Homo sapiens: one gene and its partner. The protein of the gene in region 1 interacts with the protein of each later gene in a biochemical or structural test. Each region holds a gene or a part of one and is shown in the gene's direction. Other genes may lie near its edges. The genes, in order: COL1A2 and SERPINB5.

What was found.
Region 2: the proteins of COL1A2 (region 1) and SERPINB5 form a complex in vitro, tested with the Homo sapiens proteins (one study listed by BioGRID).

Annotation. Positions count from the first base shown.
Region 1 is NC_000007.14:94,404,895-94,411,914, forward strand, and holds part of COL1A2 (collagen alpha-2(I) chain precursor), read left to right. Parts: intron 1-304; coding exon 305-358; intron 359-778; coding exon 779-832; intron 833-1,355; coding exon 1,356-1,409; intron 1,410-2,952; coding exon 2,953-2,997; intron 2,998-3,288; coding exon 3,289-3,342; intron 3,343-3,441; coding exon 3,442-3,486; intron 3,487-3,875; coding exon 3,876-3,929; intron 3,930-4,427; coding exon 4,428-4,526; intron 4,527-4,669; coding exon 4,670-4,714; intron 4,715-4,828; coding exon 4,829-4,927; intron 4,928-5,347; coding exon 5,348-5,401; intron 5,402-5,525; coding exon 5,526-5,633; intron 5,634-5,994; coding exon 5,995-6,048; intron 6,049-6,161; coding exon 6,162-6,260; intron 6,261-7,020. UniProt on the Homo sapiens protein: Type I collagen is a member of group I collagen (fibrillar forming collagen).
Region 2 is NC_000018.10:63,500,688-63,505,852, forward strand, and holds the end of SERPINB5 (serpin B5), read left to right. Parts: intron 1-2,642; coding exon 2,643-3,035; 3' UTR 3,036-4,398; downstream 4,399-5,165. UniProt on the Homo sapiens protein: Tumor suppressor. It blocks the growth, invasion, and metastatic properties of mammary tumors.

The DNA of each region.
Region 1 (7,020 bases):
AAGTATTTACTCTTAAGCACTTTCAAAATGCTATTTAAATACTCTTGCCTCAACAAGATTTTCTAGATTCAAATTAAGTATTCTGCCAAAAGCTGAATATGCCTGACAGAACTCTTAATGTATGGGAAATATTATTTTAATGAAATATTAACTAACCTACTTGTATTAAGGGAAAGATTAAATATATATCTGGATCCATATTTTTATGTGATAACTTTCTCCCCTTTTGTAAAAACCAAGATTCCCCCATTTTGTCTGATAGTTTACCAAGAAGAAGTTGACTCTACAATGTTTTCATGTTTAGGGTCACCCTGGAAAACCCGGACGACCTGGTGAGAGAGGAGTTGTTGGACCACAGGTGAGACTTTTTACATTGGTAGATAGCACAAACATCATAGGCCTATAAGATAGTTGCTAAAACTAGCATCAATCTAAATGACAACATAGATGTCACCCAAACTCATAACATGAATCGAAGGCATCTAATAAAGAAAAAAGCCTAGTTAAAAAAAAATGCATATACATTTTATTCATGCAAATAATGGAATATAAATGACAGCAAGCATACCATAAGCAACTAAATTGTGTTTTCTACAAATACCGTATTATTAGTTACTCACATTAGAGCAAGTTAATTTGTCACTCTGTGCTTAGAGGTATACTAGACTTTGGTTCAAAGCTTGAACTTTGATGAGAATAAATACTTTGGAGGGAAGAAGTCACTGTCTTTTTATTTATGGTAAAACATTATTCACCATCTTCTGTATTTCTTTCTAAGGGTGCTCGTGGTTTCCCTGGAACTCCTGGACTTCCTGGCTTCAAAGGCATTAGGGTGAGCACATTCTTTACTCAGAAGAGAGAAAATGCCTATTAATTTTTGGAAAAAACTCAAGTATGTTTAAAATCTTGGGTGACATATACTCACTTTCAAATCCCTGGAGTTTGCCAAAGGGAAGAAAGAGTTAAAGAGTCAGATTTCTTGAAAGTAAAGTGGGGTGCAATTTTTTCAGTCTGTTCATAGCTACCAAAAAACAGGCTCACTACAGAGAAAATTATATAGAACATGTATTACTTATTGAGTATTTACAACCGTCTGAAAATCATAAAATTATTAAGGATGGAAAAGATGTGAGAGAACACCTAGTCCTCCATCCTTCTCTCTCAATGGCAAGAAAGTTAAGTGACCTATCTAGGGCAATAGACTGAGTTTGCTGGGACCTGGAACACTGGACTTCTTTCTACTGCAGCAGACAAGACTTACCCAAGAGAGATTAATGGCAAAGATATACAATACAATTTTTATTTGACCAAACACTATCATGGAACAGCATTTTATAATAAGGCTTTCCTTTCAGGGACACAATGGTCTGGATGGATTGAAGGGACAGCCCGGTGCTCCTGGTGTGAAGGTAAATATTAAATTAGAAGCACTGTTTTTAAGCACTTGATTGAAATTCCCCATGACCTCCAAAAAAGTATATTATACTGAAGACTACCCATATTACAAAAAGTATTTTTATTTTTTTTCTTTCCTGTACTTCAAATCCCTCAAGGATGGGGACTATGAGAGTCTGTGAAAAAAGGTCAATTATTAATATTTATTAAAATTCAATATCTATTAAACAATTGAGATAAAAATAATATTAATAGTTTCTTGTTCCATTTCCTTTCCTCCCTCTATAATTCCAGTGTATCTCTGCAGCCAAAATAAAAGTAAATAAACATATAATCAGAGATTACGACACTCTGTATTATTTTAAACTGTAAATTCTCCTTTGCCACACACTAATTAGATAGGTACATTCATGTCGCTATACACTTTTCAACCTCTTTCCTGTGATTTATCTGTGCACACTCAAAAAAATTTTAATTAGGTAATTAAAGTCTCAGAAGTGTGTTATCTCTTGGCTAGGCTCTTCTCTGACAGCGTTTTCAACTATAAAATGTTCTCTTTCCTATTAAGGAGATAATGTGATATTAAAGTGAATACCAACGTAATTACAAATTAATGAGTAACGAATACTAGCGGGACCAGAAATGAACATGAATATGGAGAATCTATTCTAACTTTCCAGCTGCCACACAAATGGATAAGGTCAAACTCATTCTCCCAAGAGCCCGATATAACAGCTCAGACTACTAATCACTGTATCATAAAATGTTAGAGCTGCAAGGAGCTTTGGAGACCCCCTCATTTTGCAGAGGTGGGAAACTGAGGCTTCGTGAGAGCAATTGACTTGCCCAAAGTCACACATCTAGAGGTTAGAAAGTCATAGGCTAGAAATGATCCCCCCTTGCCACTTCAATGCTTATTCCCAAAGAATAGACTTCACATAGAATCCTGGAAATTAAGGGTCCTTATGAGGTCTCTTAAACCATATTTCCCCTATATCTAAATCAGATTATCTTTAAAAAAAGTTCTTTTACATGTGCCATAGTATTAAATCCCACTACTACTACTACTACTACCCTGGTTTTTACTCAGGATAAGAATATAGATTGGAAATAAATATGATGGCTCTAAAAAATACCATGAAGCTTCAATTTTTCATGCACATTTTATGAAAGTGATAACACTGAGTGTTCAAAATAACTTTAAAAAGGATAAATATGGTTACATTGAAAGCAAATTTATCCTTTGCCATCTCTTTTTATGATATTGTTTCTAGTATATAATTGATATCCTGAATCTAAGGGAGAAATTGGGGAGGAGGTACACTCAAATAACCACATCTCCTTAGAACCTGGATATGTGGTACTATCTGAATAAAAACTCATGTTAGCACATTTTAAAATCTGTGTGTCTGGCATAATTGAAAAACAATCTATATGTGTAAGAAATATTATGAAGTATATGAATGGTTCAAAGTAAAAAAAATAGAGTAAAATTGCACTATCAGGAAAAATAATTGTTATATTTAATGAACAAAAACTCAATCCTTCTCCATGTAGGGTGAACCTGGTGCCCCTGGTGAAAATGGAACTCCAGGTCAAACAGTAAGTATTGACTACTTCATTGTAAATTTAAATGTGTACACTCTTTATGAGATGGAACTTCTTTAATGTTTTTGCTAATCACTGTATCCTTCAGCATTGTATTCTTTGATGTTTTTCTAATAGCCTTCTGATACTTAATTGAAATCCACTACTGTTTAGTTGGAATTAGAAGGCAACTTATTTATTTTTAGTGTATTCTTGTACAGGTTGGAAACTGAACAAAGCAAATGATGCCTGTGACTTTTTTTAAATTAGCATTCTGGATTTTATTGAAAATATTTCTGCTTCTAGGGAGCCCGTGGGCTTCCTGGTGAGAGAGGACGTGTTGGTGCCCCTGGCCCAGCTGTAAGTGCTTCCATTTTTGTTCAGTTTCATCCTTTTAAAAAATCTTCTAATGGCTGTCATTTAAGTTTCCACCTGATCTTCCCTTTATTTTCTTCTTAGGGTGCCCGTGGCAGTGATGGAAGTGTGGGTCCCGTGGGTCCTGCTGTAAGTTTTGACACTGGGGAGTTTGAAAGGAGTTGAGAATGTGGGGTGGGTGCTGTCTTCTTCATTAATCTCTTACGAAATAGCATCATTTCAGACACTTTACCAAATGTTCTGTGAGGTCTTTTGAAGGCTCCATTTATAAGTAGTGTAAGCCATTTATAAGTACCTGAACTTTTGATTGATGTATAAAGCAAAATATCCCCACCCTGGATACCATGAATGTCTTGCCTTTGATGAGATCCTAACGACAACAGACTGGTTGTCAGTTTTTTTCTTTACTAATATAAACAGTGTCATGCCACTGTAAGCAACTTCAATCTTCTGCCATTGTTATTGTTTTCTTAATTTACTTGGAGGAAATTTCTTACCACCTTCTGCTTTGATTTCAGGGTCCCATTGGGTCTGCTGGCCCTCCAGGCTTCCCAGGTGCCCCTGGCCCCAAGGTAAAAACACTGGTGACCATTGTCACTACTTTGATAAACTTTTTACTGTGATGTGAAAGATTGGAACTGTGTTTGCAGATAAAGAGATAATTACGAAACAGTTACCTTAATTATTCCTTCCCTTCAAAATGGACATAGAATGACCAGTTTTCTCACTCTACATTTGAAATAGATCATTTCTCTGCACTGTGCACTGTGCCCATCGATATAGATGACAACATGGAAATTGTCTCTAGGACTAGTTAGTTAGGACTGACTGAGAACCAGAGTCAACCACAGAGAGACAGAAGGAGAGGGAAGGTAGTAACAGTAGCCAAGATGGCAGAATCAAGCAAGGAAAATAGGAAACCAAACTCAAATCTTGTAATAAAACGGATAAGAAAAATAATTGCAATTTTGAAGTTTTATGAAGACATTTCATAAAACTTGGCATCTTAAAAACAGATATGCTGTTTCATTATTTGCTGGTTAATTCCTTGGTTTAATTTCCTCTTTTAGGGTGAAATTGGAGCTGTTGGTAACGCTGGTCCTGCTGGTCCCGCCGGTCCCCGTGGTGAAGTGGGTCTTCCAGGCCTCTCCGGCCCCGTTGGACCTCCTGTAAGTAGCCACTGTCTTTAAACTTTATTGAGTAAAAGAAAACAAAGGTGGAGTATGGGGAAGAAGAAGAATGAAGATGGGGTCAAAGAAGAACCGAAATATTCCAATTAACTGATATCCTTCTCCTTTCCTTTTCCTCATAGGGTAATCCTGGAGCAAACGGCCTTACTGGTGCCAAGGGTGCTGCTGTGAGTATACCTGCGTAGCTAAAATGTGCTGCTATGATTTTAAAGGCATTTAATGTGTGCTGCCTCTACAGCCCATCACCTCCCTAATGGACCACACTGCATTTTCCTTCACAGGGCCTTCCCGGCGTTGCTGGGGCTCCCGGCCTCCCTGGACCCCGCGGTATTCCTGGCCCTGTTGGTGCTGCCGGTGCTACTGGTGCCAGAGGACTTGTTGTAAGTGGTCATGACTGTGGTTCTCATCATCCTGAAATACCACCTCTGCCATCATTTCATCACTATCTAGACTTCCACTTGTAGTTTTATTATTCCTATTTTTCTCTTCCTTAGCATTTTTAGTTTATATTTCTTATATATATATGTACACTCCCGTCTGCTATATGCACACAGACATGCCCTTCCTGTTATCTTAAATCATTACCTCAAGGTAAATGAGGCAAAGTTCTACAATATCAGTTTTGTCCCTTCGACCAATAATACCATTCCCCTGTACTCAATTTAAATATGAACAGGGTACATTTCCTAGAGAACTTGAGCTTCTCTTTACCTTGACCCACAAATATTCTAAGAGATTTGTCTGCAAGAGAGTTTCAACAAATGTTTGTCCTTTGACCACTGTTCTGTATTGAACCCTAGGGTGAGCCTGGTCCAGCTGGCTCCAAAGGAGAGAGCGGTAACAAGGGTGAGCCCGTAAGTAGCTCTATCATCACACTTTTATAAAGTTAATTGTTTTTCTCATTCCAGTTTCTCCAGCTGGACATAGTATTAAAATTATTTTTTTACTCCCTCTTCTTTTGTTCTTTTCATTAAACAGGGCTCTGCTGGGCCCCAAGGTCCTCCTGGTCCCAGTGGTGAAGAAGGAAAGAGAGGCCCTAATGGGGAAGCTGGATCTGCCGGCCCTCCAGGACCTCCTGGGCTGAGAGTAGGTTTCAAATGCTCCCAACACCCTAACACACCAGAGGCAGATTATGATACCCCTTCACTGGGAATTGGTCAAAATTACTGACTGTGTTTTCTTAGGCAAAAAAAGCATCTGCTTTCCATCTGCCTTATTAAATCAGTGACTCTCAATTTAATATGTTATAAAATTGGCCTGGAAACAATGTTGACCTACTTTTGCAGGATGCTCATCTATGAATTCCTCTAGGGGTTGGGTGAAGTGTTTTGGCTTGGTTTGTGTCTGTATCTCCCCTGTAAGGAGATCATGCTATTTTTTACAAACTCTACCTTATCAAAGCCAAGAGATTTCTTTAATTCTCTCTATTTCATGTACTTTCTTGCAGGGTAGTCCTGGTTCTCGTGGTCTTCCTGGAGCTGATGGCAGAGCTGGCGTCATGGTAAGCTGTCTATCACTTACTTCCTAGAAAGGGGCTTGCTGCTTCTGGTGGTGGGTGTGTCATTAGCTTTAGCATCCTCCTCCTCTATCTGTTTTTTTTTTTTTTTTGAATAGGGCCCTCCTGGTAGTCGTGGTGCAAGTGGCCCTGCTGGAGTCCGAGGACCTAATGGAGATGCTGGTCGCCCTGGGGAGCCTGGTCTCATGGGACCCAGAGTAAGTTTCAAACTGATTCTGAGCAAATCACACCTGGCATTACTTCCTTCTTTAAAGGGTTGGTTAATATTGAAGATAACAATAAAAACATCAAAAGTAAATTTGTTAGTAGTCTTGCTGACAGTTGCATTTTTGACTTTATCAAAGCTCAGTAGATATTTTCATGCATTTAATTAGTTCATAAATTTTCTATTTATTACTTGATACAATGGCTATGAGGTTTTTGGAAGAATAGATCTATTTTAATATATCCAAATTAGATTGGTCCTCCTATCAGCATGAATCTTTTATCTTAATTTGTGAGTTTTATATAAGGTGTTCATGAAATATATTAGGACTATACATTTTTGGTTTATTAGATTCATAAGTGAAGTCTTTTTCCTAGCAATCACAAAGTGCTGTAATGTATTCAGCATCACACTAGCTATGGAGAAATAACCTCTAGGTCCATAGACACACTAATCCATAGCAATAGAGTAATTTTTTTGCCTCCATTGCCTCTTATGGGTGAATATCAACTGTAATTGTACCATAAACAAGTAATAGGGACACCAAATATAGCAATAAGAAATCCACTTTGGAAATTGTTTACTAAAAGTATTAGTTTTTCTATTATGAGGTAAATAACGTGATACATTTTGCCCATATACATGTTGCTTAACAGTTTCTTGAGATATCTATAAAAGGATGAGTTGCACTAAATTTCAATAAAAGGAAAGCCACAAAAAAATAGAAGAAAAATTTCAGAACTCTTTTCACA
Region 2 (5,165 bases), on another chromosome or scaffold:
CTGGCCTCAACCCTTGGCCAGGAAGGAAGAAGGGGCTCTTTGAAGGCCTGGATCACTTGCTATATATCCACATGGGCCTCAGTGATTTGCTGACTTTCCAGGGGACCATCCAGTCTCCAGCTTGCTCCTTTGGTTGCCATTATGTTTTAGCCACCACTTTATTAACTGAATTATAATTCCTGTCCTTCTTCTTCTTTGGTGCATTACTCTCTCTGTTTTTTTTCTTTCCATTTTATGCTTTGATCTTTCAGCCATTATCCAGCTGTCTTGGATTTTACCTTTCGTTCTTAAAACGCCCTCCAATAAACATCAATTATTTTCTTCTTCTTCTTCTTTTTTTATTTCAATAATTTATTTTTCTTTTTTTTAATTATACATTAAGTTTTAGGGTACATGTGCACAATGTGCAGGTTTGTTACATGTATATACATGTGCCATGTTGGTGTGCTGCACCCATTAAGTTGTCATTTATATTAGGTATATCTCCCAATGCTATCCCTCCCCCCTCCCCCCACCCCACAACAGGCCCTGGTGTGTGGTGTTCCCCTTCCTGTTTCCAGGTGTTCTCATGGTTCAATTCCCACCTATGAGTGAGAACATGCAGTGTTTGGTTTGTTGTCCTTGTGATAGTTTGCTGATAATGATGGTTTCCAGCTTCATCCGTGTCCCTACAAAGGACACGAACTCATCATTTTTTATGGCTGCATAGTATTCCATGGTGTATATGGGCCACGTTTTCTTAATCCAGTCTATCATTATTGGACATTTGGGTTGGTTCCAAGTCTTTGCTATTGTGAATAGTGTTCCAATAAGCATACGTGTGCATGTGTCTTTATAGCAGCATGATTTATAATCCTTTGAGTATACACCCACTAATGGGATGGCTGGGTTAAATGGTATTTCTAGTTCTAGATCCTTGAGGAACTGCCACACTGACTTCCACAGTGGTTGAACTTGTTTACGGTCCCACCAACAGTGTAAAAGTGTTCCTATTTCTCCATATCCTTTCCAGCACCTCTTGTTTCCTGACTTTTTAATGATCGCCATTCTAACTGGTGTGAGATGGTATCTCATTGTGGTTTTGATTTGCATTTCTCTGATGGCCAGTGATGATGAGCATTTTTTCATGTGTCTGTTGGCTGCATAAATGTCTTCTTTTGAGAAGTGTCTGTTCACATCCTTTGCCCACTTGTTGATGGGGTTGTTTGATTTTTTCTTGTAAATTTGTTTGAGTTCTTTGTAGATTCTGGATATTAGCCCTTTGTCAGATGAGTAGATTGCAAAAATTTTCTCCCATTCTGTAGGTTGCCTGTTCACTCTGATGGTAGTTTCTTTTGCTGTGCAGAAGCTCTTTAGTTTAATTAGATCCCATTTGTCAATTTTGGCTTTCAATTATTTTCTTCTTAAAGTATAGAACTAAAGAAAATGACCTTTTGAGTTTTGGAAATGATTTTTTTTTTTTTTTTGAGATGGAGTCTTGCTCTGTCCCCCAGGCTGGAGTGCAGTGGCATGATCTCAGCTCACTGCAAGCTCCGCCTCCTGGGTTCATGCCATTCTCCTTCCTCAGCCTCCCGAGTAGCTGGGACTACAGGTGCCTGCCACGACGCTTGGCTAATTTTTTGTATTTTTAGTAGAGACGGGCTTTCACTGTGTTAGCCAGGATGGTCTCGATCTCCTGACCTCGTGATCCACCCACCTCGGCTTCCCAAAGTGCTGGGATTGCAGGCGTGAGCCACTGCGCCCAGCCGCATCTCTCTCATTTTTTAAAACAGCTAAAATGGATGCATTCACTACCTATGACCCTAGGGCATGGCTCAGAGTTAGTTCAAATTCCCATTAAAAAAAAAAAGTAACTTTAGCTTTAATTTAATTTTCTAAATCTGATGCCATTCCTAGTACATGAATATTCTGGATTTCCTCGTAGAGAAATTACAATAAGCATTCAAGAAATATGTGTAAAAAGCTTTCTAATTTTATATTCATTTCACTATTGTGTATGCAACATCATGATCCAGGCATTTGTTTCTATAAATCTACTCTCTAACTTAAGGTTGGGTGCGGTGGCTCACACCTTTAATCCCAGCACTTTGGGAGGCTGAGGCTGGCACATCACTTGAAGCCAGGAGTTTGAGACCAGCTTGGCCAACATGATGAAACCCTGTCTCTACTACAAATACAAAAGAAAATTTAGCTGGGCATGGTGGAGTGTGCCTGTAATCCCAGCTACTCGAGAGGCTGAGGCACGAGAATTGCTTGAACCCAGGAGGCAGAGGTTGCAATGAGCGACGATCACACTATTACACTCCAGCCCGGGTGACAGAACAAGATTGTCTAAAAAAAACCCAAACAAACAAACAAACAAACAAAAAACTACTCTCTAACTTAAAATGAAAAAACAGAACCCTGTCCTCATAAATTTCAGTGCACATGGAACACTGTTATAGGCTGGGGAGGAGGAGGACACAGCTGGGTGGCTGCTGGGTCTCCTGAGTCACATACCAAAAACTTCTGGGCCATCTTTGATGTTCCACCCAGACTGCTTTGAAGCTGGGCTTATCATAACACCTTATGTTTTCAATTGAGCCAGGTCTTTTACAGTTGGAAATAAATAAAAATAATTTCTTTTCATTTTTGTCCTTCAGATTGAAAAACAACTCAACTCAGAGTCACTGTCACAGTGGACTAATCCCAGCACCATGGCCAATGCCAAGGTCAAACTCTCCATTCCAAAATTTAAGGTGGAAAAGATGATTGATCCCAAGGCTTGTCTGGAAAATCTAGGGCTGAAACATATCTTCAGTGAAGACACATCTGATTTCTCTGGAATGTCAGAGACCAAGGGAGTGGCCCTATCAAATGTTATCCACAAAGTGTGCTTAGAAATAACTGAAGATGGTGGGGATTCCATAGAGGTGCCAGGAGCACGGATCCTGCAGCACAAGGATGAATTGAATGCTGACCATCCCTTTATTTACATCATCAGGCACAACAAAACTCGAAACATTATTTTCTTTGGCAAATTCTGTTCTCCTTAAGTGGCATAGCCCATGTTAAGTCCTCCCTGACTTTTCTGTGGATGCCGATTTCTGTAAACTCTGCATCCAGAGATTCATTTTCTAGATACAATAAATTGCTAATGTTGCTGGATCAGGAAGCCGCCAGTACTTGTCATATGTAGCCTTCACACAGATAGACCTTTTTTTTTTTTCCAATTCTATCTTTTGTTTCCTTTTTTCCCATAAGACAATGACATACGCTTTTAATGAAAAGGAATCACGTTAGAGGAAAAATATTTATTCATTATTTGTCAAATTGTCCGGGGTAGTTGGCAGAAATACAGTCTTCCACAAAGAAAATTCCTATAAGGAAGATTTGGAAGCTCTTCTTCCCAGCACTATGCTTTCCTTCTTTGGGATAGAGAATGTTCCAGACATTCTCGCTTCCCTGAAAGACTGAAGAAAGTGTAGTGCATGGGACCCACGAAACTGCCCTGGCTCCAGTGAAACTTGGGCACATGCTCAGGCTACTATAGGTCCAGAAGTCCTTATGTTAAGCCCTGGCAGGCAGGTGTTTATTAAAATTCTGAATTTTGGGGATTTTCAAAAGATAATATTTTACATACACTGTATGTTATAGAACTTCATGGATCAGATCTGGGGCAGCACCCTATAAATCAACACCTTAATATGCTGCAACAAAATGTAGAATATTCAGACAAAATGGATACATAAAGACTAAGTAGCCCATAAGGGGTCAAAATTTGCTGCCAAATGCGTATGCCACCAACTTACAAAAACACTTCGTTCGCAGAGCTTTTCAGATTGTGGAATGTTGGATAAGGAATTATAGACCTCTAGTAGCTGAAATGCAAGACCCCAAGAGGAAGTTCAGATCTTAATATAAATTCACTTTCATTTTTGATAGCTGTCCCATCTGGTCATTTGGTTGGCACTAGACTGGTGGCAGGGGCTTCTAGCTGACTTGCACAGGGATTCTCACAATAGCCGATATCAGAATTTGTGTTGAAGGAACTTGTCTCTTCATCTAATATGATAGCGGGAAAAGGAGAGGAAACTACTGCCTTTAGAAAATATAAGTAAAGTGATTAAAGTGCTCACGTTACCTTGACACATAGTTTTTCAGTCTATGGGTTTAGTTACTTTAGATGGCAAGCATGTAACTTATATTAATAGTAATTTGTAAAGTTGGTTGGATAAGCTATCCGTGTTGCAGGTTCATGGATTACTTCTCTATAAAAAATATGTATTTACCAAAAATTTTGTGACATTCCTTCTCCCATCTCTTCCTTGACCTGCATTGTAAATAGGTTCTTCTTGTTCTGAGATTCAATATTGAATTTTTCCTATGCTATTGACAATAAAATATTATTGAACTACATGTCTTGTTTTTTTTTTCCTATTAAGTTAGACTATTTTGAAATAGAACCAAGCCGTGCGTTTACAAAAGCATCCCTGAAGCAGGCAGATCACAAGGTCAAGAGATTGAGACCATCCTGGCCAACATAGTGAAACCCCGTCTCTACTAAAAATACAAAAATTAGCTGGGCGTGGTGGCGCCCACCTGTAGACCCAGCTACTCAGGAGGCTGAGGCAGGAGAATCGCTTGAACCTGGGAGGCGGAGGTTGCAGTGAGCCAAGATCAGGCCACTGCACTCTAGCCTGGCGACAGAGCAAAACTCCGTCTCAAAAAAAAAAAACAAAACAAAAACTCAAAACATAAAAACAACAAAAACAAAACAAAACAAAAAGAACAAACCCCAAAAAACCCCAAAGCATCCCTGTAGGTAAAATGCTCTTTTGAAGATTGAGGCAGACTAAAAAGAAATAAGAATAATTACTTCCTCTTTTCCCTTGTTTTCCTTTCTTCCTAGCCCTCAGCTCTGACTTCTTTCTCCCACACTCCTTTCATCCTAGGGAGTAAAAGACCAGGGCAGTGCTAGAATGACTCTCAACTGCATAAACATCTATAATGGAATCAGACACCTTGGGACATAGAGATCTTCCCAGCCCTTTTCACTCTAAACCCACCCTCAAAAGTCATTATATTAGGACACTGTATGTGCTTAAAACATTGTTTCTTCTTATGAAGAGTGTTTTTCTCAATGCCATGCACATTTGTTTTAAATTAGTTATGGTGTCCCTGAA